7 linked regions of the Homo sapiens genome follow. The protein of the gene in region 2 interacts with the protein of the main gene of each other region in a biochemical or structural test. Each region holds a gene or a part of one and is shown on either strand. Other genes may lie near its edges. The genes, in order: MPP7, HCN2, ARHGEF12, DLG3, APBA1, ARHGAP21 and RAPGEF6.

Region 1 (4,018 bases), on a different chromosome or scaffold from region 2:
CCACCAAAGATGTCTCCAATTATATTTAAATGCTTTTGCCATCTCAGAAAAGCCACATATATGCCAAAAGTGAGTTGACTTCATATTATTTCATACTGAAATGCTCACATGAGGTGCTGTAGATGACATGGGTCAGAAGGGTATTGAATAGCTCATTGTTTACTTACATGAGGCTGAACATCCAACAAACAAACTTTGTTTTTAGCAAGGACAGACCGAACTGAGTCTATACTTGTGCCGTAGTAGTTGTTTTTATATTCTCCATATTCAATAAACCTGTAAAAAATTAAATGCATTGGAATCATTTGTGAATTTAAAACAATTATAGGTGGCAAGATAAAATTCATAGGTAAAAGACGTTTCTGCTGAACACGTAATTTTTTTAAACTGTGTTTAATAATATAAACAGAGCCAAGTATTTCAAAATGTCAGTTTTTAAAAAATCTTTTATTATACATTTTCAAATCAGTAACACTTGCTTAAATTACACTTAAGCAGAAAAAAAGTACTTTAGTCTAGTAGGGCTCTAATGTTTTCCATCACCCCCTTTTTCTTCAGAACTAATGCAATGCAATAAAATGGTGAATAAGCCAAACAATAGAAACTACTGGAATTTCATTGCACGCTACGGAGTAACCCAGCCCAGCTTCAGAACTAGAGGCGCTGGGTGGTGGCTAATGGAGCCAGGGCAGTCGATCATGTGCTATAAAAACACAATCACTGCGCCAAACACGAAAAAAGCATTTCGATGTTTTAATAAAATCCCACAATCCTGCATTAAAACACATATTGCTTCTGATAGCCTAAAATATTTGTGCCTCAGCAGATGGAAAACCTGGGCAGGGGGCACTGGGGTGGGCTTGGAGCTAGCTAGAGAAGACGGTACCAGCAAGTTAATTATCATCATTTCAATTTTTTGAAGAGCCAATGAGAGAATGAGATGCAGGTGTGTGAAGCAGACGCTGGACCTAGTGATATACTACATAGTTGTTGGTTTTTGAAGTAAAATTCTATCCAAATTACATGTTAAGATTCAATTAGTGGGCTGGAAGGAGGTCAGAATAAGACACTTGCAACCTTCCCTCATTCTGCAAAGCAGTGTCTACACATTTTATAGAAATGAAGCAAATCCAGGTTACTAAAAAATTAGAGGTGAAGATTAACAATAATTACCAACCAAATTATTACCTTTTCATCTGTTTCAAATATTATTATGATAATTAAAATACACTTCAAATGGAGAACTCTCAGTTGTCTAAAACGGGACAGGCATGTGCTTATAAAAAACAGTCACATGAAAATTCTCAAAAATGTCCACATACTTGTTATTTTGTACATCTGTCTCAAACAAATGCTTGGAAATGAAAATGTATTCAACACCATCACTCTCCTGGCTTCTTCTTGCTCTGGTGGTATCTATGATTTAATGAAAAGGAGTTTAGAAAAGCCCACATCAGCCACCTTAAGGAAAATACTAAAAAAGAAATCAAGGGTATTTAATTAGTTTTTTCAACAGGATTTAAAAATGTATTTAAAAAGCAAATTAGCTAATAAAATACAGTAAGCTGTTATAAATCCAGATTTTCCACTGTTATTAAAATTATATTGATTTGAAGATGGGTTAAAAAGTTAATTGCATTGTATGTCTCTGCTATTATTTGCTATTTTGAAGGCTCTCTAACCTGATACAAGAGTGCTATTTAAACTCCTGAGGAAAAAAACCTTTTTTTTTTTTTTGCAAATAATATGCTTATTATCTTTATTGATCTTCATTCATTAAAGCAAATCTATTAACCACTAAGTTGTTAGATAAACTCTGAAACTGTTTGACTCTCTTCTTCTCATGGGACATAGTGGGTATGCCATCAAAGTTTTGTTTTACCAGCCAAGTGAAGCCAAATACTTCTGTGTGCTACTCATTCCTCCTTTGCAAAGTCATAAATAGCATCATCTTAGAATACTATTGAACTTCTAACCTTTCAGTAATCTTGCCTAATTATTTATTAACGAACTAAAATGGAGCAGAAAATATAGGATTCATTAAAACGACAACATGAACAAAGCCCAAGGCACTCCAGTGCTGACATGGCAAATGTAAACCCACTACAGGCCATCCTTCCTGCAGATCCCAACTAAAAACTATGGATGCCAAGAAACTACCCGAACACTTTGAAAATAAGTAAAGCAGGTAGACTGTAGAGGGGAGTCAAACTGCACGGGGAGGAGTTTAACTCTATTTTCCTCTTAGCTTTGCCCCAAGGGTGGGAATCCTTCGCAGAGCAGCATGGTAGAATCTGCAGCAAAATGCCAAGAGAAGCCCTAACGTTCTGGTGCAAAGAACTTGGGACGGGGGGTAGAAAAAGTCCTTGTGGGCTGTAAAGTGTGGAGGAAATCCAGGAGAGAAGAAAGCTGGAGAAGAAAATACTTCACTTCTGTGTATGAGTCAACAATAGTCTAAGAATCCTCTCTGTGCTACACACATGTAGTTCAAACTCAAACCAGCACGGCAAAGGCCTTATGAACTGAGAGTGGAATGTACAGGTTTCAGCCTAACCCCTGAAAAAGAGTATCGCAAAACATATCTAAGCCAATGAAGAAAAGGCTTAAAGAACTGAGCTGAGATCTGAACCATGCACACAAGTCTTAGACTAATCCTTGCATCCTAACAGACCCAAATCAATATAACAAAGGTGAGATAAAAGAAGCTGGCAGCTAAAATAAAAACATCAACATTCTCCCGAATATGGTAACAAGACCTAGTGTTAATACAACATTATATTCACAATGTCCAAAATGCAATCTGAAATTATTCAACATGAAAGAACCAAAAACAAAAAAAAACAAAACAAAACAAAAAAAACACCAATTTTCAAGGGGAAAGATAACAGATAGCAACCCTGAATGACCTGGAAGTTAGATTAGACATAAGTCTTTCAAACAGGTACCATAACTAAGCTTGAAAAGGTAAGAGAAAATATACTTGAATTGAACAAAAATATAAATTCTTAGCAGAAGAACAGAAACTATAAAGAAAAAAACAAATAGAAATTGTAGAAATGAAAAATAAAAATATCCAACAGAAACAAATCACTAGATGGGCACAATAACAGAATGACAGAAAGAAAAGCCAGTGAACTTGAAGACAGAACAATAAAATTATATAATCTAAACAACAACAACAACAACAAGATTTAAAAAATATAGATAGAACTCCAGGGACCTATGAGAAAACACATATGTCATAGGAGTACTAGAAGGAGAGGAAAAAAGAGATTGGGGCAGAAAAATATGTTTGAAGAAATAAAGGCCCCAAACTTCTATAATTTGGTGAAATACATAAACTTACCAATTTCAGCAGCTCAGCAAATCCCAAACAGGATACACTCAGAAGGGAAAAATTATGCCTAGACACATTATAATCAAACTATTAAAAGCCAAAGATAAATAAAAAATCTCAAAGCAGCTAGGAAAAAACACTGAACACATAAGTGAATAATGATTTAAACTGTCACAGATTTATTATAAATCATAAAAATAAGAAATCAATGAAATAATATCTTTAAAGCACTAAAGGAAAATACTTAATCAAAATGTGTTTCAAGAATAAAGGCAAAATAAAGACCTCCTCAGATGAAGAGAAACTAACAGAATTCACAGCCGACTGTTCAAAAAAAATATTCAAGGAAGTTTTTTAGGCTGAAGATAAATGATAAAAAGGAAACTTTTATATTCAGGAATGAGGAAAGAACAAATAATTGTGTAAATGTAAACGTCTACTTTTTTCCTGTTAAGTTCATTAAGATATATATGACTATTTTAAAGAAAAGTTATAATATTGTCTGATAGTTTTCAATGTATGCAAATGTAATACATTTGACACCTAAAACAAAAAGATTAGGCTGGGGGAAAGGGTCTTAAATGGCTGCCAGGTTTCTGTATTTTATGTGAAATGACACCAAGTTAAACTGCAAGCAGGTCATGAATGGTTAGATATGCATACATTAATATTCAGAGCAAC
Region 2 (4,018 bases):
GGAAGCAAGGAGTATCTGGGACCTAACTTCATTTATTATTCCTTCTTTTTTGACGGAGTTTCGCTCTTGTCGCCCAGGCTGGAGTGCAGTGGCACGATCTTGGCTCACGGCAGCCTCCGCTCCCGGGTTCAAGCGATTCTCCTGCCTTGGCCTCTCAAGTAGCTGGGATTACAGGCATGCGCCACCACGCCAAGCTAGTTTTGTATTTTTAGTAGAGACGGGGTTTCTCCATGTTGGTCAGGCTGGTCTCAAACTCCTGACCTCAGGTGATCAGCCCCACCTCGGCCTCCCAAAGTGCTGGGATTACAGGCGTGAGCCACCGCGCCCGGCCTCTTCCTTTTGCTTTTACTTATTTTTATTTATTTTTTTTGAGACAAAGTCTGGCTCTGTTGCCCAGGCTGGAGTGCAATGGTGTGATCTCAGCTCGCTGCAACCTCTGCTCCCGGGTTCAAGCGATTCTCCTGCCTCAGCCTCTACAGTAGCTGGAATTACAGGTGCGCGCCACCACGCCTGGCTAATTTTTTATTTTTAGTAGAGACGGGGTTTCAGCATGTTGGTCAGGCTGGTCTCAAACTCCTGACCTCAGGTGATCCGCCTGCCTCAGCCTCCCAAAGTGCTGGGATTACAGGCATGAGCAGCCATGCCTGGCCCATTTATTATTTCTTTGGCATGGTGATACCACTTTCCCAATTCAGGGCCATGTTGTAAATTTTTCTTTAGTTGTTAGAGATCAGGTCTTGCTCTGTGACCCAGGCTGGAGTGCAGTGGTGCAATCATGGCTCACTGCAGCCTCAACTTCTGGGCTCAAGGGATCCAACCAGGCCGGGCGCGGTGGCTCACGCCTGTAATCCCAACACTTTGGGAGGCCGAGGCAGGCGGATCACCTGAGGTCAGGAGTTCGAGACCAGCCTGACCAACATGGCGAGACCCCGTCTCTACTAAAAGTACGAAAATTATCCAGGTGTGGTGGCGGGCGCCTGTAGTCCCAGCTACTCGGGAGGCTGAGGCGAGAGAATCCCTTGAACCCTGGGAGGTGGGGTTTGTGGTAAGCCGAGATCGTGCCACTGCACTCCAGCCTGGGCGACAGAGTGAAACTCAGTCTCAAAAAAAAATAAGTAAATAAAATAATAATAATTAATGTGGGTTAATTAAAAGGGAAATCCATTGGAAAACGCGCTAAGCAGATGTCTGGGTGACAGGACTCATCATAACCACACTCAGCTTCTCTCCACGGATGATCCCAGGCCTGAAAGGTTCCAAGTGGCTGTTTCAGACCCCCAGGGACATTAAGGGGCCAGTGCCGGGGCTGCAGTCCTGGGTCCCCCTCTGTAAAGAGGCCTGAGTCCTCCCGTGTAAGGGGGTCTTGTCCCCACCCCTGAAGGGCCTGTGTCTCTCCCTCTGTAAGGCGGCCTGGGTCCCCGCCTCTGTAAGGGCCCGAGTCCTTCCCTCCATAAGGGGGCGCCTGGGTCCCCACCTCTGTAAGGGCCCGAGTCCTCCCCTCCATAAGGGGGCGCCTGGGTCCCCACCTCTGTAAGGGCCCGAGTCCTCCCCTCCATAAGGGGGCGCCTGGGTCCCCACCTCTGTAAGGGCCCGAGTCCTCCCCTCCATAAGGGGGCGCCTGGGTCCCCACCTCTGAAAGGGCCCGAGTCCTCCCCTCCATAAGGGGGCGCCTGGGTCCCCACCTCTGAAAGGGCCCGAGTCCTCCCCTCCATAAGGGGGCGCCTGGGTCCCCACCTCTGTAAGGGCCCGAGTCCTCCCCTCCATAAGGGGGCGCCTGGGTCCCCGCCTCTGAAAGGGCCCGAGTCCTCCCCTCCATAAGGGGGCGCCTGGGTCCCCACCTCTGTAAGGGCCCGAGTCCTCCCCTCCATAAGGGGGCGCCTGGGTCCCCACCTCTGAAAGGCTTGGGTTCAACCCTCTGTAAGCGGGATAAGGGGGCCTGGGTCCCCCCTCTGTATGGGAGCCTGCGTCTCCCCCTCCGTCAGGGCCCGCGGCGCTCACCACCATGCCATTGATGGACACCCAGCAGTTGCGCGGGAAGTCCTGCAGCATAGGCACCAGGAACTGCAGGCAGCCGTCCCAGTGGCAGAGCAGCAGCATCATGCTGATGAGATTGCAGATCCTCATCACCGCGCTGGCCAGGTCATAGGTCATGTGGAAGATCTGCAGGAAGGCGCCGTGAGCCCACCCTACCCGCTGACCCCCGGCCCCCACCTTCAGAGCCCCAGCCCCGTGCGCCCCCACTGCGGGAGCTCCTGGCCCCCTCCCCCAAATCCAAGGCCCCGCACAGGACCCCCGCCCCACCCTGCAGCCCTGCCCCGGGACCCCCGCCCTCCAAACCCACAGCCCCCACCCCAGGACCCCGCCCACCTCTACAGCCTTCACTGCAGGACCCCCCCAAATCCACAGCCCCCGCCCTAGGACACCCCCCAAATCCACAGCTCCCCACCCCTGATGTCTGACACCGCCCCAGCACAACCCTCATATCCCCACCCCTGATGTCTGGCCCTGCCCCAGCAAAACCCGCATTGCCCCGCCCCTGCTGCCTGACCCCGCCCAGCACAACCCTCATAGTCCCGCCCTTGCTGCCTGACCCCGCCCAGCACAACCCTCATATCTCCACTCGGATGTCTGACCCCGCTCAGCACAACCCTCATAGCCCCGCCCCTGATGCCTTGACCCCGCCCAGCACCCTCACAGCCCTGCCCCTGCTCCTTGACCCCACCCAGATATCACGGCCCCACCCCTGCTGCTTGACTCCACCCCAGCAGCATCATAGCCCTGCCCCTGCTGCCTCGACCCTGCTCAGCAACCTGATAGCCCCACCCCTGCTGTCTTGGCTCTACCACTGCACCATTGTAGCTCCACCCCTGCACCCTCATAGCCCCACCCCTGGGGCCTTGACCCCACCCAGATCTCTCATAGCCCCATCCCTGGGGCCTTGACCCCACCCAGATCTCCCATAGCCCCACCCCTGGGGCCTTGACCCCACCCAGATCTCTCATAGCCCCATCCCTGGGGCCTTGACCCCACTCAGATCTCTCATAGCCCCATCCCTGGGGCCTTGACCCCACCCAGATCTCCCATAGCCCCACCCCTGGGGCCTTGACCCCACCCAGATCTCTCATAGCCCCACCCCTGCTGCCTTGGCCCCACCCATGCACCATTATAGCCCCGCCCCTGCTGCCTTGGCCCCGCCCATGCACCATTATAGCCCCGCCCCTGCTGCCTTGGCCCCGCCCCCGCCCCACCTCACCTCCTCCCACTGATGGATGTAGCGGATCAGGCGTGAGAGGCGCAGCAGCCGCAGGAGGCTGAGGATCTTGGTGAAGCGCACGATGCGCAGGGCGCGTGCCGTCTTGTAGACCTCGGAGTCAATGCCCTTCTCCACGATAAGGAAGATGTAGTCCACGGGGATGGAGGACACGAAGTCCACCACGAACCACGTGCGCAGATACTTCTTCTTGATCTTCTCGGGGTCCAGGATGATCTCCGTGTTGTCCTCGATCACAATGCCGGTGCGGAAGTTCAACACCAGGTCCATGAGGAAGAAGGTGTCCGAGACCACGTTGAACACGATCCACGGGGCAGTGGTCTCATCCTTGAAGAAGGTGATGCCCACTGGGATGATGATGAGGTTTCCCACCATGAACAGCAGCATGGTGAAGTCCCAGTAGAACCTGGGGGCGAGGGTGCCCACACCTCAGGCCGGTGCCTCCCCGGGGCACCTGCGGGACCAGCCCCGGGCACTCTTCCTTGGGGGACGAGGGGCGCCCACACCTCGAGCCAGTGCCTCCTCCGAGGAGCCTGCGGGACCAGCCCCGGGCCCTCTTCCCTGTGGGACGAGGGGCACCCACACCTCAGGCTGGTGCCTTCCCCCAGGCACCTATGGGACCAGCCCCGGGCATTCCTCCCTGGGGGGCGAGGGTGCCCACACCTCAGGCTGGTGCCTTCCCCCCAGGCACCTATGGGACCAGCCCCGGGCATTCCTCCCTGGGGGGCGAGGGTGCCCACAGCTCAG
Region 3 (4,018 bases), on a different chromosome or scaffold from region 2:
GGGACCCTCGTCTCAAAAGAAAAAAAATAAATAAATCCAAATTACCAGATTAAATGCTATTACTCTTTTGCATTTATTTTGAACTGCACTTTTGCTAAGTTGTTAGTTAATAATATTCAGTGAGTAGTGGAGAAAAGAGGTCACAAATTTATTTTGCCACCATGAAACTAACAAGTTTTAAAAGGGACCCCGTTGTTAATAGAGTTAAAATATAACTTGCCAGTCAAATTTGATTTTTAATCAACACTACATCCGTCTCTTTGGTTTTTGATTTTTTTCTCACCAAATCAAAAAACATACCACCCTAAATGAAAGGCTTTTCATTGGGATCTATCAATGATTTGAACATAAAGAACCAAAGTAATAGCATAAAAATTTTCAAATGCAGAAAACTGTTCACAGAATCGAGACACCCTAATAACTTTGGGGTATAAACTCTTAGGTCTCTTTCTAAGCAGTAAATTTCATGTAATTTGCTTAAGAATATAAAAATAGCAAGACTCTATGCCACTTGTGTTATTGAGACAGCACCGAGTATCTTATGCAACTTCACAATGAATCTGGAAATTAGTATCCTTCAGTGGACATACTTGCCTGTTGCCACTTGTCGAACCAACACTGTACTCAACTTAATGACAGGGCTAAACGTGTGTTTGCTATCAGCTGTAGATGCCAGAATCTTACTATGACACCTTAAAACCAGTCTATCATCCTGCTTTTGTAACAATACAAGAATGTCTTCCAGCAGCAACGTGTATAAATCTAGAAATAAAAGTGCAGAAAAAAATGGTAAGTACAGAAATGGAGACGCGTTTGATTAACTTTATAATGATTCAACAGAGGAATTCTATTTCTGTTAAAGCTACAAAATTTTAAAAATTGACTTGTATATTATCTTTTAAAATTTCATTTTCAGTAATTCATTTTTATTTTATTTCACTGAAGTGTCAGTCTGTGACCAATAGGAAATAAAAAACAACAAGCTGGGTGTGGTGCTGTGCGCCTATAGTCCCGGCTACTAGGGAGGCTAAGGCAGGAGGATCCCTTAAGCCCAGGAGTTCGAGGCAGCAGTGCACCATGACTGCATCTGTGACTAGCCACTGTGCTCCAGCCTGGGCAACATAGAAAGACCTTGTTTCTGAAAAAACAAAAACGGTTCCTCATCACAGACAGTTTAAGATGTACTGGTCTAAAGAAAGCTTACAAAGCATACAAAGACTCACTAGACTATAAGAATGATGGAAATAGGACTAAATCAGTTCTCCACTACATTCCTAAATGAATATTTAACACATCTTACATATAATGAAATAACACAAGCAGATCTACAAATGTACAAATAACACGAGGTAGCACTGCAAACTGCTGAGAGAATGGTTCTCTCCTCTTCCCTTTGTCATAGGAAACTTTCCTATTCCTTCCCTTTTGCCACTCTCCCCAAAACTAAAAGACAATATCAGACCTACCAATAGTTTTATCTCTATTCACCTTCCAAACCAATGGCCCTTCATGAATCATCTTCCTTTTTGTTAAATCCAAATTCTGGCAAAATAAAGAAAATCATGCACAAATAATTTCCAAGCACTCAGTAACATGATTATCTATATAATACAGTCTCTTTTAAAGAAATTCTTAATATAAAATACACCATTTACATTCAACTATCATTATTGCTATTTGTCAGTTCTTGAAAATGGCACAAAAGCCATATTAAAGTAATCTGCATACAATTTTCTAAAAAGGAAAAGGTATCTTGCAGAAGAACATTCAGGAGTACTATCTTCAAACCTCACTCTAAACAGATGATAACAGATTATGAAGATCAAGTTACAAACATTCAGTCACTAGATTCTCAACGTATCCTTTAATTTTCCTATGAATAACTGGATGAGCATGGTACATATGCTTGTCTATAAGAAAGTGGCTTCTGAGTTCCAAGGCTCTAATTTCAAAGAAAGTTCTAAGAAATAGTACTCATGAAAAGTCCAGGTACTACTCAGACTTGGTCTAAATATTAACAACTTATTAGTAAGAGAATCATCTTTTAGTATTAGCAGCTCTAGAAAACTCTCATTCTTTGGAAGCTAAGGGGAATAAGCACATTTACGTGCTTGTTGACGAAGTATTAATATATGACATAAAAGTCTATTTTAACAGCCACCAAATAAATCTGCCAAAACCACCACCTAGTGAAATGGTACAAAAACACTTAAAATCCGAAAAAGTTAACACATAAGCCCACATACTAGAAGTGGCAATTAGTAAACATTTTACTATCGTTCCTGTAATGGTTCCAACTTTTATGCTTCTGAAGAGCCTCATGAGAAAATAGTATGCTATCTTGTGTTATTAAATGATCTGGAAAGTTACCAAACAGTCCTACCCTTATTTAAACTACAGAACACAGGCTGGGCATAGTGGCTCATGCCTGTAATCCCTGCACTGTGGGAGGCTGAGAAAGGAGCACTTGAGCCCAGGAAATCTGGACCAACCTGACAACACAGCGAGACCTTGTCTTTACAAAACACAGAATTAGCTGGGTATGGTGGCATATACCTATAGTCCTAGCTGCTAGGGAGGCTGAGGTGGGTGGACTGCCTGAGTCCAGGAGGCCAAGGCTTCAGTGAGCCAAGACTGCACCACTGCATTCCAGCCTGGGCAACAGAGCAAGACCCTGTCTGAAACAAACTACAGAACACAATAAAATTAAATTTTATAATAATTAGTGTCCCTTAGTCTCCTGCCAATTGCTGTCATGTAATATTACAGTTTTATGCAAGATATTCCTCTAATGAAAAACTAATTTCATACAGATCAAGCATTTAAAAGGCAGCAAAAAAAATCATAAATACAGATAATCTACGATACAAGAACTCCTTCAGGTGACGTATATTCCCACTGAGATGTTAATTACCTGCCAGGTCTTTAGCAAATTTTATTTTATTTTTTAAATTATGATTAGACCATCTCTCACCCTGAGCTCTTCAACATTTGGGTACTCTGACAACTTCAGGCTGGAGGTATCAAGGCGACGCTGATAATCTTCTAGGCGCTGAAAATTAGGCAGGGTGGAACCAAGGTTAGTGCTTTGGTCATTAATGACCTCTCTATTTCTGAATCAAACTTGGCATTTAAAATCTCCATTTTGGCCAGGCGTGGTGGCTCACACCTGTAATCTCAGCACTTTGGGAGGCTGAGGCAGGTGGATCACGAGGTTAGGAGATCAAGACCATCCTGGCTAACACAGTGAAACCCCGTCTCTACTAAAAATAAAAAAAAATTAGCCGGGCATGGTGGCGGGCGCCTGTGGTCCCAGCTACTTGGGAGGCTGAGGCAGGGGAATGGTGCAAACCTGGGAGGCGGAGCTTGCAGTGAGCCGAGATCACGCCACTGCACTCCAGCCTGGGCGACACAGCAAGACTCCATCTCAAAAAAAAAAAATCTCCATTTTACTGAGCTCTTTGCAATGCTAGACAGGACTGAAAACTCACTCTCTTCCCGTGGCTTTGGTGATAATATACTCTCCTAGTTTTCCTCCTGCCTCTTTGGCTTTTCTTTCTCAATCTTCTTTTCAAAGTCATTGGTCTCTTATTAGCTTATATTTATTTTCTGAATATGTAAATCATGCACACAGTACAAAATTCAGATGGCTATATAAGGCAAAAAATAAAAAGTCTCCCTCTAACCTTGTCCTATTGCCCCACCCCCCTCAATTTTCCCTAAAGAAGCAATCACTAATATCCATTTCTTGGGTAGCCTTTGAGAAAAATTCTATGCAAACAGATATGTATTTATTTATATATGTATATATAAGTATGCTTGTCTTTGTGCATGTTGTGTGTATATGTCCTTTTTTAAAACAAGATATGGTAGCATAATATATTCATATATGCATTCCTTTGGTATTCCTATATGTATTCCTCATTGAAATGGTAGAATACATTCATATACGTATTCCCCCACGTGTGTGTGTGTGTGGTGTATGACTTATATCTTGGGGACTGTTCCACATTAGCAC
Region 4 (4,018 bases), on a different chromosome or scaffold from region 2:
GATGGCTGGGATACACAGTGGAGCTACACGACATGGAAGGAATGACACACACTTACTGGAACTGCTTTCGCTGTCACTGGTGTTGGATGTCACTCCCTCTGCAAGCCAACAAGAAAGAGACTCCAATTCAGAACACACCACTGAGAGGTCACATGCAGCACAAAACTCAAATGCTCCAGGAGCGAGACACTGAGCTGCCAACTGAGTCAGGCCACCAGAGGCCTGCCACATCCAGGCTACCAACTGGGAGGCACAGCTCCAATCCTGAGCCCCTGGCCCTCTCGTACTTGTCCCCAGAGCCCTCTTGGTCTGCCAAGTCCCTCCCTATGTACTACAAGCCATACTTCCTTCAGCAGCATCCTCTTCATCTGAATCAAATTGACCTGGATGGTTTCCAAATCGTATTTCAAAATGCATCTCCCAAGGCTAACAACAGGAAAGAAAAGACAGTGACAGGAGCAAAGAGAAGTCCAGGGACCAGTCTGCTCATGGGTGTCCCCCGCCCAACAGAGCCCCTGAAGTACAGAACCATGTGGCACTCCACAACTAAGAGGCCAAACGCTGGATGGGTTAAGCAGACACCAGGGAGCGCTGCTCTGACCATTCGGTGGGCTCCCCAGCCTTCCTGCCACCACTCCAAAGCAGGAGAGCCTGGCTTCAGTGGTGAGAGGGGAAGCATCTCCATCCACCACCAGACACATATGTCAAAACACAGACAACAAAACCAACAAAAACACCTTGAGGACAAGGCAGCCCTCCTGTCTCACACAGCTGGGATCTGCCCATCTCTTAGTGGTGAGGGAAAAGAAAGCTCAGGCGGAGGAGCAGCGCTCGTAGGAGGCACAAACAAAGCCCGCCCATCCAAGATGACACGCGAATGAAGATGAGACATGGACACACCAAACTATGGAGAGAGATGCTGCTCATTTCAGCCAAGACCACACTGTTCCAGACCATGATATGCTGTGGCCCCCCCACCCAGAAAGGACTGGCTGAGTTGCCACACATGGCTAGTTCCTGAACAATCCCCATGGGCAACTCCTTTGCCTTTGGTCTGTATTATTTATTGAAGGAGAGTATATGCTGATAGAACCCATTTGGTGTCTGTGCACCCTTGCACGCAGCAGGATGGCCACTAAGGCCTCATCATCTAGGTCTTTTTCATTTTCCACTCCAGGATTCTTTTCCAGAAAGGAAAATGAGGTTGGAGTTTTCCTGAGATAAAGCACTAACTATATATGGTCCATAAATGATGCTGAGGCCCCTAGCAGACCAGCTCAACCCCTTACAGGTGCTCTGTGGGAAGCCAAACAGTGGCTGTTTGCTGAGGCCCGGGATCTGCTGGGACATCTCAGATGCAGGTTGGGAAAAAGGGGTCACAGTACCCTTGCCCCTAGTTAGAGGACTGTTAACAGCTGCAATTCCTACACCCAATTCTTTAGCGTGGTATCACTGGGAGAAGAATCCAACCAGCAGGCACCCCTCCCTTCGACAATAGGCTAGAGATTAGCTGAGTGGTTACCTTGGAGAAACATTTCAAGCTTACTTCACTTCTAAGGTGGGATGCCATGCTCACGCCCTCCCACTTTGAGTAGCAAAAGGTAAACAAAGGCATGAATGATATGGACTTATTTGGGTACTAGGGATCCATAGCAAACATGTAACATATGGAGCCACATGCACTTCTTCCTGCTGTGATGTCAGAGTGCTCACAAACACTGCCCTCCCCTCACCCTTCACCCTCACCCATGTCCCCAATAGCCCCACCCCCACTATCTCCATTCATGCCACAAGTACAGTGAACGGTGTGTAAGTTGGACTTACTCAGGTTCTTTGCTCCATAATAATCGTCACTTAACCCCGGGAAGTCCTGATTTCACAGACAGCAAGGGCGGAGAGAGGACGACGGGGAGAAGAGGGGGGAAGGGGAAGGGATGGGAGGGAATGGAAGAGAGGGAGAGATTTGGGGAGAAGAGAAAAAATAGAGAAAAAGACAAGGGGGGAGGAAGAATACAGAGGTAGGTGAGCACTAGTGACAGAATTATGAAACACCATGAAGACCTAGCACTATAGTGAGGCCAGGAACTTTGCCACAGAAAGAACATCCCAGGGCAGATAAGACATCAAGACTTCATGCTGCCCAATTCATTGCCAGAGGGCCTTGGAGTAGACTAGCTTTCTGAGGTGTCTACAGCTGTAGGCCAATGGGACAGGACAGGTGACACTCCAAGGCTTAGAGCACCTGCTTTGACTAAATTTTGGTTGTGGAGCCCAGGTCTCTGTTTGCCCCTGAAATCACCATTTCCCTCTGCAGTGCGTGAAAGAGCAAATGTCCGCGTGTGCCAGGTAGGCAGATAGAATTGCCATCACCTCAAGAAGCCTTTGCCCAATACTGATTCACTCTGTTCAAACCCTTCAGGAAAAGTTTCGCATGGTGTAGAGTGTGGCCTCCAAAGCTGCCCTGAGCTGGACAGATCTTGGGGGATGAGCTCAGCTTCTGGAGAAGCACTAGGCACCTTCAACTCTGTCATCCAGTAGATACCCCCTCGCCCACCAGGCGGGACCACTGAGCAATGAACACCTCCCCAGGCTGGGCTTGGCATGGAGGGACTCTGGGACTCATCTGATGAAACTATGGTGACATCACCTCAGGCCTCTGACTCAGACTGTCTCCTAACTGCTCATGAGCAGAGCCACCCCGTCTATGGCTTCTCATTGAACTACTCCAGGATGATGAGCCGTGGCTGCCATCTAGATGAGGGCACCCTTCTGTCCACCAGGTACCACCCCAGATAGCAATGACTTACACATACCATGACTGTGGACCAAGCTGGCCTGACAGAAGGACATTTCCTATCAGAACCAGTCAGTCTCCTGCCAGCCCCAATAGACCAAGACCCCAAGATCCCTCCATGTAAGACAGAGGAGTCACTGGTAAATGAGAGATGTTTACTGTTCATGATGAGACAAGTGAGAAGACATTTTTCAAGCCAGACCTGGTGTTTAAGGTTAAGGTTGGAGCAGTTAATTGCTGAGGCACACGGTAGAGCAAGAAGATTTATCAGGATTAAATTTCTTCTTCCGTTGAATTTAGCTCAGTGTGACTGCTCTTCCTACCGAACCAACTTTGTGTTTCTCAATAGATCTTTATTTGAACAATGTGGAGCAACACTCCTTCCATGTCAACTCATTTAAGCAGGAAGGATTCTCCTGGGAAAACTGGCTCTGTAGGCACTCTAGGATGACAGCGAGTCTGCTGAGAGTTGTGTGGATATCCTGTATGCTTATGCACGTGCATGGGATTCCAGAAGTAGCCCCAACTCCAGGGATCCTGGGAAGAAAAGGCTCTTCTCTTGACATACATGAGTGAAGTTAAGGGAAAGAAAACACAAGAGGAAGAAACCAGGAGAGCAACACTGAGTCCCTAGACCTTGTTCTCTTGAAAAACCATTTTCCTGACCCTGACAGTCTAGCTAAAAAACCGTTCCTCACCACCACAGCAGAGCTCTGTCTGGCACTTCCACTGCTAGTGCCAGGCACTTCCTGGAGGCTGACCCTGGGACCAGTCCCACCTCAGTGCCTCCAACATTCATTCTAACTGAGGAGCAGGACAAATAAAACCCAACATCTCCTTAGGCAGACCAGTTTCTGCCCTGACTCTGTAGATAAGCAGGTGCACACGCACACAGGCAGGCACGAGGCCACACGTGGCCCTGCCCAGGCTTCTCTCGAGGGAAGGGCAACTGAGGATGAGAGGATGGGGCTGCAGATGGCCTGCTCTCTGGACTCTGCTGCTACTTACGTTCCTGTATGCTGCTCTCCTGGGCCATGTTTTCTTTGCTCTTGTAAAATGGAAACTTTCGAGAGAGGCGGAAACTCTTTTTACGTTTCGTTTTGATCGACTGTGAAAGAACATGAAGATGGAGGGGAAGGACAGAAGAAAAAAAAAAACAGAACAATGGATTTTAAAGCATGCAAGAAAAACTAAAATGGAGACAACGGTGAGCTAAATAAAAGA
Region 5 (4,018 bases), on a different chromosome or scaffold from region 2:
AACTATTCTGAACTCAAGTCCTCATCTCAGGGTCTGCATGCATAAACTGCTTTAGCATCCTATGGCAATTCTGTGTCCTGTTTGAAAAACAGCTACCTATCTGCAGAAATCAAGGTAAACGAGCTTTACCCTCATTCTTTACACCTGAGTTACTTAAATCTTTGGAAATTTCTCATCAATTCCTCTCCGTAAGTATTTGATAAACCCTTACTAATGCAGAGAGTCAGTCTGTGTTATAGAGTATACCCAGATGAACAAAACAAAGTTCTAGCCTCAAGGATCTTATACTTGAGAATGGAACATGAAACAAGGAAGAAGAAAAGAGAGCAATATTTAAAGAAGATTCAGGACACAGAAGAGATGTAAGTTCCAAGGAGCAGAACTACTTCCAGCTGACTAGTATTTCATCACTACCCAGACAGAATCACGCTTTGTTTTCTGATGTGATCTCGGCTCACTGCAACCTCTGCCTCCCAGGTTCAAGCAATTCTCCTGCCTCAGCCTCCCAAATAGCTGGGACTACAAGCATGCGCCACCATGCCCGGCTAATTCTTGTATTTTTAGTAGAGACAGCATTTCGCCATGTTGGCCAGGCTGCTCTCGAACTCCTGACCTCAAGTGATCTGCCTGCCTCAGCCTCCCAAAGTGCTGGGATTACAGGCATGATTGTTTTCTAACTTAAATACATTTGATTGAGGATATTCATCTTTATATAAACCCAGTACTGATTCATAGGTCAGCCCAAATACAGTAGATGGTAATACAGCCTTATGGGCAAACAATTGAAAATGAAAGGCAAAGCATTTTATTGTGAATTCCCTAAGTGACTGCTCCAGGTAAACCAAGGAAACCAATAAGGTTTCCCTGCTGTCCCTTGAGGATGCCAAACATGTTCTTATCCAGCCTTTTCATTTTTGATATCCTCTCTGCCTAGAAGACCCTTCCCCCAAATATCTGCAGGGCTCACTACTTCACATCTTTCAGCTCTTTCTGCTTAAGGTCTTCCCTGACCATACTATATAAACTAATGTCACCCCCCACCCACCCACTATCATCAGTCCATTGCTCTCTCTCTTTTATTCTTCGTCATAGCACTTACCACCTGGCATATTATGTAATTACTTATTTATTTATTTTTAATCTCCTTCCACTAAAAGTTCTGTGATATTAAGGACATGCCTCCCCCCACCCCATATTCCTTGCACCTAGAATAGTTTCTGGCCCAGAGAAAGTGTTCAATGAGTGTATGTTGAAGGAATGAATAAATTTCATCATTAAAACCTCAAAATCACCACTCATTACAGTTGAAGTTCCATAAACTCACCTGGAATCATGACATAATCCCATAACTCAAGGATCTAAAGGGTTCACAATCATTTTGTGAAAAATGTGGGGTTTTTAAAAATAAAGCTTCAATGTATATATCAGGTATGAATAAATAGTTTTAATGCTATCATAAACTTGCACAGGCCATAAAAGGCAACTCATTCGATGTCCATTGTGTAAGAATGAAATCCTGAAATTTAAAATTTTAGATACTGTTGCTAGCTTACTTAAAAAAAGTTTATTCATGTATTCATGTGACAAATGTATATTGAATGCATATGATGGGTATGGTATTGGGCGAGGTGCTATATTTGATTTTTCTTTTGAAAACTGACTTTACATGTACGTCACTGTAAAACCATATTCTACCATTACAGATAGAAAAAGCTCATCCTTTAAAAAAACACTTACATTTTTCCCCATTGTTTTACTATAAACTTCTTAAAATTTAGCTCAGATCTCTGAGAGAGAATATTTACAGGAAATACAAGTGGAGTCTTTTATTTGGATAATTTTAAAGGTAAACATTCTCCTCTTTTTACTGCATTTAAGGGAATGAAGAACCACTGTATTTAGTGAGATTAAATGCTCACTATACAAAAATTACTTAAGTAGTTGTCAAACTCCAATTATATAGCGTTAATTGGTTTCACTACAAATTCCTGCTTTTCAAACACATGAGGTCCTCATGGTTGGGTAATGATCTTTTATTCACTCCTAATTGACTCACTGCTCTGTTTCCACAATGCCCACAAGTCTTTGTCATTCTACTCCTGGCTTCAACCTGCCCACCTCTCTTTGACCTCACTTAAAAGACTGTGGCCAAATTCCTTTCTTTCCACCTCAAAATTCCTATGCTTCTGTCTCAAAAGAATCCTTCCTTTGCTTTCATCTAGTATCCTCCCATCTTCTTGAAGACTTAATTCCCTCAATTGAGCCTCTCCCTTACATTTTCAATCTCTTTTTCCCTCAATGGATTGTTCTCCTCAGCTTATAAAGCAGGCTCAAGTCTTCCTATACTAAAAATACCACTTTCCCTCTACTACACCATTGTTGTGATATATCATACTCTCTCTCCTTCTCTTTTATCTCCCAACTTATTGAAAATGAAGTCTGTTTTCACTGCTTTCCATTTCCCTTCCCCCACGCCTCCCTTCAACCCTTGCCCCTGGCTGCCACTTCCACCTACCACAAAGACAATCAAGGAAATCCAAGAGTCAAATCCAATGGCTTTGCCTTGGTTGCACCGTCACCCATGGGGTGTGCTGTGTGAGTGACAGGGGCTCTCCTCACCCCTTCCAGCTTCCATGACACTGTACCACTTCACTTCCATCATTTTTCTCCAATTGCCCCTTGTTTAACGTGGTTCCTGTCCTCTTCTTTCTCTTTCCCCTCCAACATACAGACATCCCTCAAGGATCCTATCCTTACTTTTGCTTCTTCTTTCTTCATTTTCTTTATCAGTGATTCCTGGGATATGAAAATCGCTCCTAAGCAGATGACCTACAAATCTCCTGGTAGCTCTAACCTCCCTCTGTATTCTAGTCCCTTAACTTGGACAAGCCTGTCATGCTCAAAAAGAAACTTCTCTCCTCTTCCTTATCCTCTGTTATATCTTCTTTCTGAAAATGACCCAACTGCTCTCTCAGCTAAGCCTGACAATGATCTTTTGGCCTCCCTTTTCCCTTCCTCACTTTCCAGTGACTGTTCAAGCTCCTCAGATAATTCCCGCACACCACCTCTTAGGTGTGTTCCCTTCTTGCCTCCCACTGCCTCTTTCCATCTTTCCCCTACTTTGACAATAGAGTCTATCTGGTCTCCCTCCTGCCAGCCTTTTCCCATGTCATTCCATCCAACATAATACTACAAAAGTATTGCCCCAAAGCACAGTTCTGATACTGTCAATCTTTCTCCTCACAAATCTTCTATAGTTCCCCAGTCCTTACTGAACAAAATCCACACTCCTTAGCTTGGCGTACAAGTTGCTCCACCACCTTGAACAAACCTCTCTTTCTTGCTTTATCCCTCATTACATCTCTTGGCATTCCTAGCGCTTCAGCCAAAGCACACCATTTTTTTGTTTCCTGTGTAGGCATACACCTTCCACTGCCAGGCCTGTGCTACACTGTTCCTCCCCCAAGCATGCCCTTCCTTCTCTGCCAACCCAAATGCCACCTTAATCACAGCTCAAATGCTATATCCCATGTAACCTTCCCTAATTCTTCCATCAGAAGTCACTTTGTACCCTGTGAACTCCCACAGCTCTGCAGGAATACTGCTTTTTCAGCACTTAATCATTTTTCACTATTTTTACAGTTAGTAACATATTTCCTCTTTTCTCCTTCTAGATCATGATCCACCTCTGGCCAGGATCTAAGACTTAGCATTCTTTGAACCTCCAACCCTTCTCAACATTCCCTGTCCCCTATCCAAAGGTACAGTGGATCTGAGATGCGGGAGGCAATTAACAAATGTTTGCAAATTAATTATTGTAACCCAGAGAGTTAACTTCAGATTTTACGGCTTGAAATTCTCTCAATTTTAGCAACAATTACTTCTTCTTTCTAGGATAAAAGTCCTATCTCCCCAAGGTACTACAGTTAATTCCTTTTGGCCCCAGAGGTCAATTTTCAAATATCTCTTACCCCTAAGTCTTCCGAAACAAACAAACACAATAACAACAAAACAAAAC
Region 6 (4,018 bases), on a different chromosome or scaffold from region 2:
AATCAATTCTAAACATAAATAAGTGATCCTTACTTTTTTGAGGCTTTCTATTGTACTGCTTTGCTTATTTAACACAAACACTACTATCATCTGTTCTCAGTGGAGCTGTTTCAAAGCTTCTATTCAACATCACTGTGTGAAAGATTTTCCAAGTGCCTCCCAACATTGCCAAAGGGTTTTGCTTCTTTTCTGTATCCATGCGATACCTAGGATAGTACCAGCAAGTAACATGTGTTCAATACTTATTGAATTGATCCGTCCATTTAAAATAAATGACTAGGAAGCAGCCAGTGTTTTCTCTAATACCAGAAAGAATGATCAGCATTTAAGAAATATACGTGTAAGTGATTTTTCTTCAAAAAGAAAAACAAATAATATAGGTGGATAAAAGATGAAAACAGACTGCCAGAATTTGTTAGTGACTGACTAATTTTTAAGGATAGTGAAACCAAGGATCAACTAGTATCACAAGCGGCAGTTACATTATCAGAAGATAAGAGAAAAGCTCAAAATTTGCATGATTTTTTTTTAACCTCTGTGAGTTACCTTGTATGAAATGCTATATGGTAAACCCAGAGTTGACCATAAAGTGATCCTTTTTTTCCTATTCATTCCAATTATACATTGATATTGACTGGGGTTCTCAATTTTTTTTAACTTGCCTCATTTTGATGATAGTGAATGATGATACAGTTTACAAAGAATACAGTCTTTAAATACGGGAGTAAGTTATCTTGAATTTAAATAGACTCTTCCAACTTATCAGCTGAGAGATCATATGATTAAGATCTAGAATAAGACTGCCTGGATTTAAATCCTACCCCTGATGCTTAAGTCACTGTGTGACCTTAGGGAAATTATTTAGCCTCTCTTTGCCACTGTTTCCTTATTTTTAGAATGGTGGTGATGATAATAGGACACATTCATATGGTTGCTGAGATTAATGCATGTAGTATGTTTAAAATAGTATCTGCCATATGGTATGTGCTCAGTGAATTATTGTTTTCTCATCTATAAAACTGGGGAAAATACTTGTGTACCTGTGTCTTAAGATTAGATGGTGATGCTAATAGCTCACATTAAGTAAATGTTTATTACTTGGCAGGCATTCTTCACATGCATTATCTCATTCAATCCTCCAAACAGCCACTATGTGTCACAGAACAAGTCATCTGAAGGAGTTTTAACAATGACAGTCTACTGCCTGAGAGAATGCCTGACACATAGTAGGTGCCTGTTACACAGAACTCCTCTGAACTATTACTTAAAGCTGAAATCCACATCTAAGTTCTTATTCTCCCTGTTTATTTTGCAAAAATTCAGGTCTGATGCCCTCTGTATAGCGGGTAGTTGTACAACATAGGTTGCACTGATAAAGATCTGGTGTTATTTTTAACCACAAACAAGGCAGAGTGTAAACTACCAAAGGAAAAAAAGCACACTTTTCCTATGGTGTAACGTTTTAATACTTTGAATTGGATATAATGGAAATGACTAAATTAGAACATAATTTGCATAAGTTTACATTTAATGTAGGCATTCCTGAGTATTAAAAGAGAACTTCGTGCCCCTTTTTTGGTTATAATAAATAGGCATGAAAAGTGAGAACACAGTGAAGAAAAAACTGTGTTAATGATAAGAAAATACTTGAGCAACTGCTACTTCATCATTGCTAGATTTGCTTGATAAAGTTTATAGTTATACATACTTTAAAAACTATCTTTACTATTGAAATTCCTACTGTGAAAATACCTTGATGATCATAAGCTGTAAATTCTCAAATCCCTAAACACTGTTCTGCATGAAAAAGAAATGCTGGGCCGGGCGCGGTGGCTCACGCCTGTAATGCCAGCACTTTGGGAGGCCGAGGCGGGCAGATCACAAGGTCAGGAGATAGAGACCATCCTGGCTAACACGGTGAAACCCCATCACTACTAAAAATACAAAAAATTAGCCGGGCATGGTGACGGCTGCCTGTCATCCCAGCTACAGGGGAAGCTAAGGCAGGAGAATGGTGTGAACCCGGGAGGCAGGGCTTGCAGTGAGCCAAGATCGCGCCACTGCACTCCAGCCTGGGCAACAGAGCAGGACTTCGTTTCAAAAAAAAAAAAAAAAAAGCTGACTTATGATTTTTGAAAATGCAAGTTTTCTTAGAAACTAACTATTGTGTGACAGTAGGCTATTCCATATTCTTGACTGTATAGTTCTCTTAACAAAAATCATCAGTATCACTCTGCATTTATATAGTTATTTATACTGGTAAGTATTTTTACTGTAACTTAAGCCCTACAACAATCCTGTCTTTGAAAGATGGAAATGGATCTGGAATAACTTGGTCACAAACAACCAGGACTAGGAATGTAGTTCATTGCTTCTGAGAAGGTATACAGCATATATAAATAACCTATTTTTCTAGTTCAGTGATGGTGATTTTCCAATGTGTGAAAATAATATAAAACAGGTATGTTTGAGTTTTCCTTTTCATCAACTGTTTTACATGAAAATAGCACATTATAATTTTTTTATAAAAATGATATATCATATTCCTTAGATCTTTGTAAGAAAGTGTTGTGAAAGGGTCAGATTTCTCCAGCATTCCTTTGAACACCCACCTCTTCGTTTAGGTTGCTGCTCTCCTGGATCGTCTTGATCCAAGCTAGCATATCATCTCTGTCTTCAGCCTGAAACAGGCATTCACAGTCGGACGTGGTGAGTCGAAACACATTTTTCCTCTTGGTCTCACTGTAAGAGATGTCTATCAAGCAAGCATTAACACTGATGGGCTGCTCTTCCTCAGACGGAGTCGTCTGCTCTCTTTTATCTTTGTACAGGTAAAGTGAATGACCCCGAAGGACAACATACATCTGTTTCCATGGCCGAATACTTCCACCAACTCGCTAGAAAACATGCGACAGTTCTTTAATAGTCAATATTTGGCTAAATCTTTGTGACAGGATAAGCACATTAAGCAACACCCTTCCTCTGCATTTACATATAACTAGTGTAGCAGGTGGCAGATTTAGCTCACTACATTATTTGTGAGGAGAGGAAGGATAAAAATTGTGGAGCATAAACTGAGTTAGGCAGTGTATTCATATCAAAGTCAAGGACTGTGAAATCCCAACTTTAGTTGGGAAGGCAATATGAACAAAGCTAATCAAATAAAATAAATGTAGCAAAACATATCAAAAACAGTAACGGAATAGAAAATTTAAAAATCGGTCCAAAAAACCTGTTGAGTGAAAGACTTACGTCTTAGAGCACACAAATGACAGATACTGCAGGAGTTCTCCAACAATTGTATACATAACTAATTAACAGAGTTCATCAACTTTATATGGCTAAGCAACTCTATCCACATCCAAAGTGAGCTTTCTTAAAATTTTTAAACTCTTCTGACAGCATTAAAATGTTCTTATATATAAGCTGTCCAAATATTATAGAAAATTTTTATGGCAAAGTCTTTTTCTGTTGAAATCTACTGGATGCATATATTGATATTTTTATATTTGTTTAACTTAATATTTTTAAAATAAAATGAAACAAAGTTATAAAGGTAATTTAAAATAAACTAAGAAAAGAGACATAAAAATTTAAAACTGATTTGCCACTTCCTAAAGGACAACGGAATAACCCATTGCTAATAAACTAATAAGAAAAGCAGAGTTCCTTTTTAAATACTTAGATTTCCTTTTTACATTGCCAAAACGTAAGACAATATATTCTACATGTAGCTGATACACAGGACAAAAAGTACCAAATTAATGCAATAATTAGAATTTTTTTAAGGAATACTTTTTTTAATGTAGAAAAATCTATTTATAAATGGTTTTTTTTTTCACTCTTTAATCTGGATATCATGCCATTTTATGTATACAGGCTTTATGGTTTATTTGTCAGGGTCTGCATTTCTGACACTCAGGGTGGCTTAGAAAACACACTACCTTGCCCTTATCGGTGACAAGGGGTCGGAAATGAAGCCACCCTTCCTTGGCAGCATCACTGAAGACCTCTGAGG
Region 7 (4,018 bases), on a different chromosome or scaffold from region 2:
TATAATCTGGAGGTTTTAGGTGTGTGTGGGGTCCTTCCTTTAGGTCCGCTAAAGAAATCCCCAAATATCCTGGAGGAGTGGGAGGTGGCTCCCTATACCTATCGTCCTTCTTGGGTGAGGTGACACAGTACACTGGCATGAAAAATAAGCAATGAAAATGTTAATGAAAAAGAAATGGAAAAAAAAAGAAACCACCCCACAAACTTATTACAATGACAAAATACAACTTAAAAATAGACAAAATGAATAAACTTGAATGATGGCAGATCAAAAACATTTTTTAAAAGTTTAATAAACAAACCTCTTTTTAAAATACATAAACAACTATATTAAGTCCTGTAAACATTAAATAGAACGAGAGAGTTGAAGGAGATGACACTGATGACAAGCTTCCTTCTGCAATTCAGCCCCCATATCACAGAAGTACATGACAACTCCTGAAGTCACACCAGCCCTAAAGATATCAGAAACATTTAAAAGTTCACCCTACACACCGATTCTCTGTAAACTGGGAGACTTTACATAGAAATGACATTTGGGCCATCTGTTTAAGGGCTGTTTCACCTTCTCTCTGAGACATGAACCAATGTTTTCTGGCACTCCTGGGCAGATTAGTTCTCAGTCCTAGCATATAAACTTTAACTTTGCTGGTACGGAGGAACTAATTCCTTCAAGAACTTTACTTCTGGCCAGGTGCGGTGGTTCACGCCTGTAATCCCAGCACTTTGGAGGCCGAAGTGGGTGGATCACCTGAGGTGAGAAGTTTGAGACCAGCCTGGCCAACATGAAGCCCCATCTCTACTAAAAATAAAAAAATTAGCTGGGCATGGTGGCAGGCACCTGTAATCCCAGCTACTTGGGAGGCTGAGAGAGGAGAATTGCTTGAACCTGGCAGGCGAAGGTTGCAGTGAGCCGAGGTCATGCCACTGCACTCCAGCCTGGGCAATACAGCAAGAGTCCATCTCAAAAAAAAAAAAAAAAGTTGGAAAAAAATGAATGAGCTAAAAACCCAACCTATAATGCAATTTGACAAGTAACTATAAAATCAGCACATTTCACCTTCACATTTTTAGTAGTTAAATGCGACACCATGACTGTTGCATAAATTTAACAGTTGATTATGATATTAATTCAAAGTAGAGTCATTCCATATAAGTAGAAAAGCAGTTTTATATCCACGTATTTATATAGTTTAGGAAAGAAATTTTTAAAAAGTATTTGATGGCCAAATACTAAAAAAAAAAGTTTACTAAGAAAGCTTGGAATGGAATTCACAAACAGGAGTTGGCACACTCATGATGTACACCAAGAGAGTATACTGAAAAATGTTCTGGACTTCCTGATTGCATTTTCTCTCACTGTTACGACCTAAAATCAATAGCAGATTCAATGTTTCTACCACGTATGCATACCAATTGTGGTCCAAACAATTTATGAGGTGATAAAGAGAATAATCCCTTTACTACTATTGCACACTAATGCGATGATATTCCTCAATAAAACCAAAAAGAACTTAAAAACAAAAGACAAACAAACTTGTCCCTCTAATTAAATACCTTCACATCAGACTTTTCATTTTAATGGGGTTGAATAGCTGCTCCAAAGTCTTTGAGAAACCATGAATTTTTGGGAAATAACTTGTTTGTTTGTGAAGGAAAGAAAGGTTGTTAGAGAATGAATTTTTGCGACGATAAAATCCAGGGCCAAGATATCCCAATGCCATTTTTTGACTACTTAATCTCTAAATGCCACAGACAACAAAAACACAACTTACCAATCAAGCCCTTTTCTGTACTTGAAGTGACAGTTTTATAAACTGGGTCAGTGGCATCCTTGGGGTCCAAGCCTTCAGATGACTCAGCTGGGGTGCTCTCCAATACTCTCTGTTTAACTGTCCCATAGTTTGGTTCATACGTGTCAGACAGAGAACTGGAGGAGGTCCAACTCTTTCTCTCTAGGCTTCCTTTACACTGCCCACAAGTTCTAGAGCAGCTTTTAGAACAGGAATAGGGCTCAGAGTCAGTGGGTTCAACTTCAGCAATGGGGTCATCCAAATGGGTATGTCTGTAAGAGTTCAAAAAATCCCAGCTTTTTGGGTTTGGAAGGCTTTGGAAGTTGTCATGGGAGCTGCTTGAACACGAAGTCCAACTTCCACGACCACTGTCAGCTGCTTCTATAATGATATGCTCTTGAGAAATCTCTTCATTGCTCACAGACGATGAGACAGCTAAACACTTGATTAGAGATGGCTTCAAGAGTGTCCACCTAAAATTGGAGATAACGTACAATTAGAAGGCTTGCCAGAAAAACTATCTTCTCTCTGTTTCAAGTTATTATTGCCTGTGAGAAACTACAGAGCACGTACCACAAGTGTTCATGCCAAATAACATCGTGAGGAAAACAATATTATCATCATTCATCACTATATTCCTTGTAAGTATTTAGTTAACACTCAGAAGACACAGTAAAGAAACTCTAATGCTTAGCAAAATTTCCTTAGAATTTTTCTTTTTAAATTTTAAAATGTTAGATATTTTTTTTTTTTTCGAGACAGGGTGTCACTCTGTTGCCCAGACCAGAGTGCAGTGGTTATTTACAGGCACGATCATGATGCACTGCAGCTTTTAACTCCTGGGCTCAAGTGATCCTCCCGCCTCAGCCTCCCCAGCAGCTGGGATGGACCAGAGGTATGCCTGGCAAGTATTTTTCTTGAACTGATTTTAAATGAAAATGTAAAGATGAGAGTTGAAATGAATAAGGTTAAGTATACATATTCATTTTTGGTCATCACAATATTAGACTACTGCGTCCATGCATACAGAATTAAGAGTTCCCAACTTGAAGAATCATGTTTTATTTTTCAACGTACCTCTGAGGTTAGCCCAGTACAGTGCCAAGTAAACAGCAACTTCCCCAATTACCCATGAAATGAATAATTTATAGCAGGGGTCCCCAAACTAAAGCTCATGGGCCAAATTTAGCCAACAGCCTATTTTTGTATGGTCTGGAGCAAAGAATAGTTCTGTTTTTTAACCTTTTAAAAGGTTAAAAAAGAAAAGAAAACAAAACCAAACCAGAAGAATTTGTGACAGAGACTATATGTAGATTGCAGAGGCGAAAATATTTACTACCCAGCCCTTCACAAAAAAAAGTTTGTAAACCCCTCATTTACAGTATAGTGCAGGGGGTAGCAAACTACAGCCCAGGGCCAAATCTGGTGGTCTCTTTGCTCGTTTTTGTAAATAAAGTTTTGGCTGGGCGTGGTGGCTCACGCCTGTAATCCCAGCACTTTGGGAGGCCGAGGCGGGCGGATCACGAGGTCAGGAGATCGAGACCATCCTGGCTAACATGGTGAAACCCTGTCTCTACTAAAAATACAAAAAATTAGCCGGGCGTGGTGGTGGGCGCCTGTAGTCCCAGCTACTCGGGAGGCTGAGGCAGGAGAACAGCGTGAACCCAGGAGGCGGAGCTTGCAGTGAGCCGAGATCGCGCCAGTGCACTCCAGCCTGGGCAACAAGAGTGACACTCTGTCTCACAGAGCGAGACTCCGCCTTAAAAAAAAAAAAAAGTTTTACTGGGACACAGTCATGCCATTTGTTTATGTGTTGTCTATGGCTATTCTGGTGTAATAGCAGAGTAGTTGTGACAGAGGCCTTATGGCCTGTGAAGTCTAAAATGTTTACTATGTAACTTTTATAGAAAACATTTGCTGACCTCTGGTGTAGAGATCCTAGTTTAGAAATCTTTATAAATGTGGTAATAATTTATCTTAAATTTTTCATATTAAAGTAGACCAGATTTCACAATATTTATCAGTTAGAATAAACTTTCTCAAAGATTTCCACGTTGCTTGATTCTAAATAGAAATTTAGAGTTGATTTTTTTTTTTAATTAACCTTTGCTAGGTGATTATTCTTACTCCCCAAATTACACTTTCAGAGGACAGAGATCAAGGGCTAGTCCTACTCTCCCAACCTGTCTACAATGTGCACAGCACTCGAGGCACTTTCCAAAACAC

Evidence for each region.
Region 1: the proteins of HCN2 (region 2) and MPP7 interact in a test that uses a peptide from one of them, tested with the Homo sapiens proteins (one large-scale study listed by IntAct).
Region 3: the proteins of HCN2 (region 2) and ARHGEF12 interact in a test that uses a peptide from one of them, tested with the Homo sapiens proteins (one large-scale study listed by IntAct).
Region 4: the proteins of HCN2 (region 2) and DLG3 interact in a test that uses a peptide from one of them, tested with the Homo sapiens proteins (one large-scale study listed by IntAct).
Region 5: the proteins of HCN2 (region 2) and APBA1 interact in a test that uses a peptide from one of them, tested with the Homo sapiens proteins (one large-scale study listed by IntAct).
Region 6: the proteins of HCN2 (region 2) and ARHGAP21 interact in a test that uses a peptide from one of them, tested with the Homo sapiens proteins (one large-scale study listed by IntAct).
Region 7: the proteins of HCN2 (region 2) and RAPGEF6 interact in a test that uses a peptide from one of them, tested with the Homo sapiens proteins (one large-scale study listed by IntAct).

What each region holds. Positions count from the first base shown.
Region 1 is NC_000010.11:28,058,328-28,062,345, forward strand, and holds part of MPP7 (MAGUK p55 subfamily member 7), read right to left. Parts: intron 1,417-4,018; coding exon 1,323-1,416; exon of another isoform or gene 1,189-1,322; intron 277-1,188; coding exon 168-276; intron 1-167. UniProt on the Homo sapiens protein: Acts as an important adapter that promotes epithelial cell polarity and tight junction formation via its interaction with DLG1. Involved in the assembly of protein complexes at sites of cell-cell contact.
Region 2 is NC_000019.10:603,203-607,220, reverse strand, and holds part of HCN2 (potassium/sodium hyperpolarization-activated cyclic nucleotide-gated channel 2), read right to left. Parts: intron 3,678-4,018; coding exon 3,254-3,677; intron 2,161-3,253; coding exon 1,999-2,160; intron 1-1,998. UniProt on the Homo sapiens protein: Hyperpolarization-activated ion channel that is permeable to sodium and potassium ions. Displays lower selectivity for K(+) over Na(+) ions. Contributes to the native pacemaker currents in heart (If) and in neurons (Ih).
Region 3 is NC_000011.10:120,472,084-120,476,101, reverse strand, and holds part of ARHGEF12 (rho guanine nucleotide exchange factor 12), read right to left. Parts: intron 3,053-4,018; coding exon 2,975-3,052; intron 1,543-2,974; coding exon 1,467-1,542; intron 763-1,466; coding exon 595-762; intron 1-594. UniProt on the Homo sapiens protein: May play a role in the regulation of RhoA GTPase by guanine nucleotide-binding alpha-12 (GNA12) and alpha-13 (GNA13). Acts as guanine nucleotide exchange factor (GEF) for RhoA GTPase and may act as GTPase-activating protein (GAP) for GNA12 and GNA13.
Region 4 is NC_000023.11:70,493,260-70,497,277, reverse strand, and holds part of DLG3 (disks large homolog 3), read right to left. Parts: intron 3,903-4,018; coding exon of another isoform or gene 3,803-3,902; intron 1,871-3,802; coding exon 1,825-1,870; intron 99-1,824; coding exon of another isoform or gene 57-98; intron 1-56. UniProt on the Homo sapiens protein: Required for learning most likely through its role in synaptic plasticity following NMDA receptor signaling.
Region 5 is NC_000009.12:69,665,354-69,669,371, forward strand, and holds part of APBA1 (amyloid-beta A4 precursor protein-binding family A member 1), read right to left. Parts: intron 1-4,018. UniProt on the Homo sapiens protein: Putative function in synaptic vesicle exocytosis by binding to Munc18-1, an essential component of the synaptic vesicle exocytotic machinery. May modulate processing of the amyloid-beta precursor protein (APP) and hence formation of APP-beta.
Region 6 is NC_000010.11:24,598,034-24,602,051, forward strand, and holds part of ARHGAP21 (rho GTPase-activating protein 21), read right to left. Parts: coding exon 3,945-4,018; intron 2,898-3,944; coding exon 2,613-2,897; intron 1-2,612. UniProt on the Homo sapiens protein: Functions as a GTPase-activating protein (GAP) for RHOA and CDC42. Downstream partner of ARF1 which may control Golgi apparatus structure and function. Also required for CTNNA1 recruitment to adherens junctions.
Region 7 is NC_000005.10:131,429,085-131,433,102, forward strand, and holds part of RAPGEF6 (rap guanine nucleotide exchange factor 6), read right to left. Parts: intron 2,266-4,018; coding exon 1,775-2,265; intron 133-1,774; coding exon 1-132. UniProt on the Homo sapiens protein: Guanine nucleotide exchange factor (GEF) for Rap1A, Rap2A and M-Ras GTPases. Does not interact with cAMP.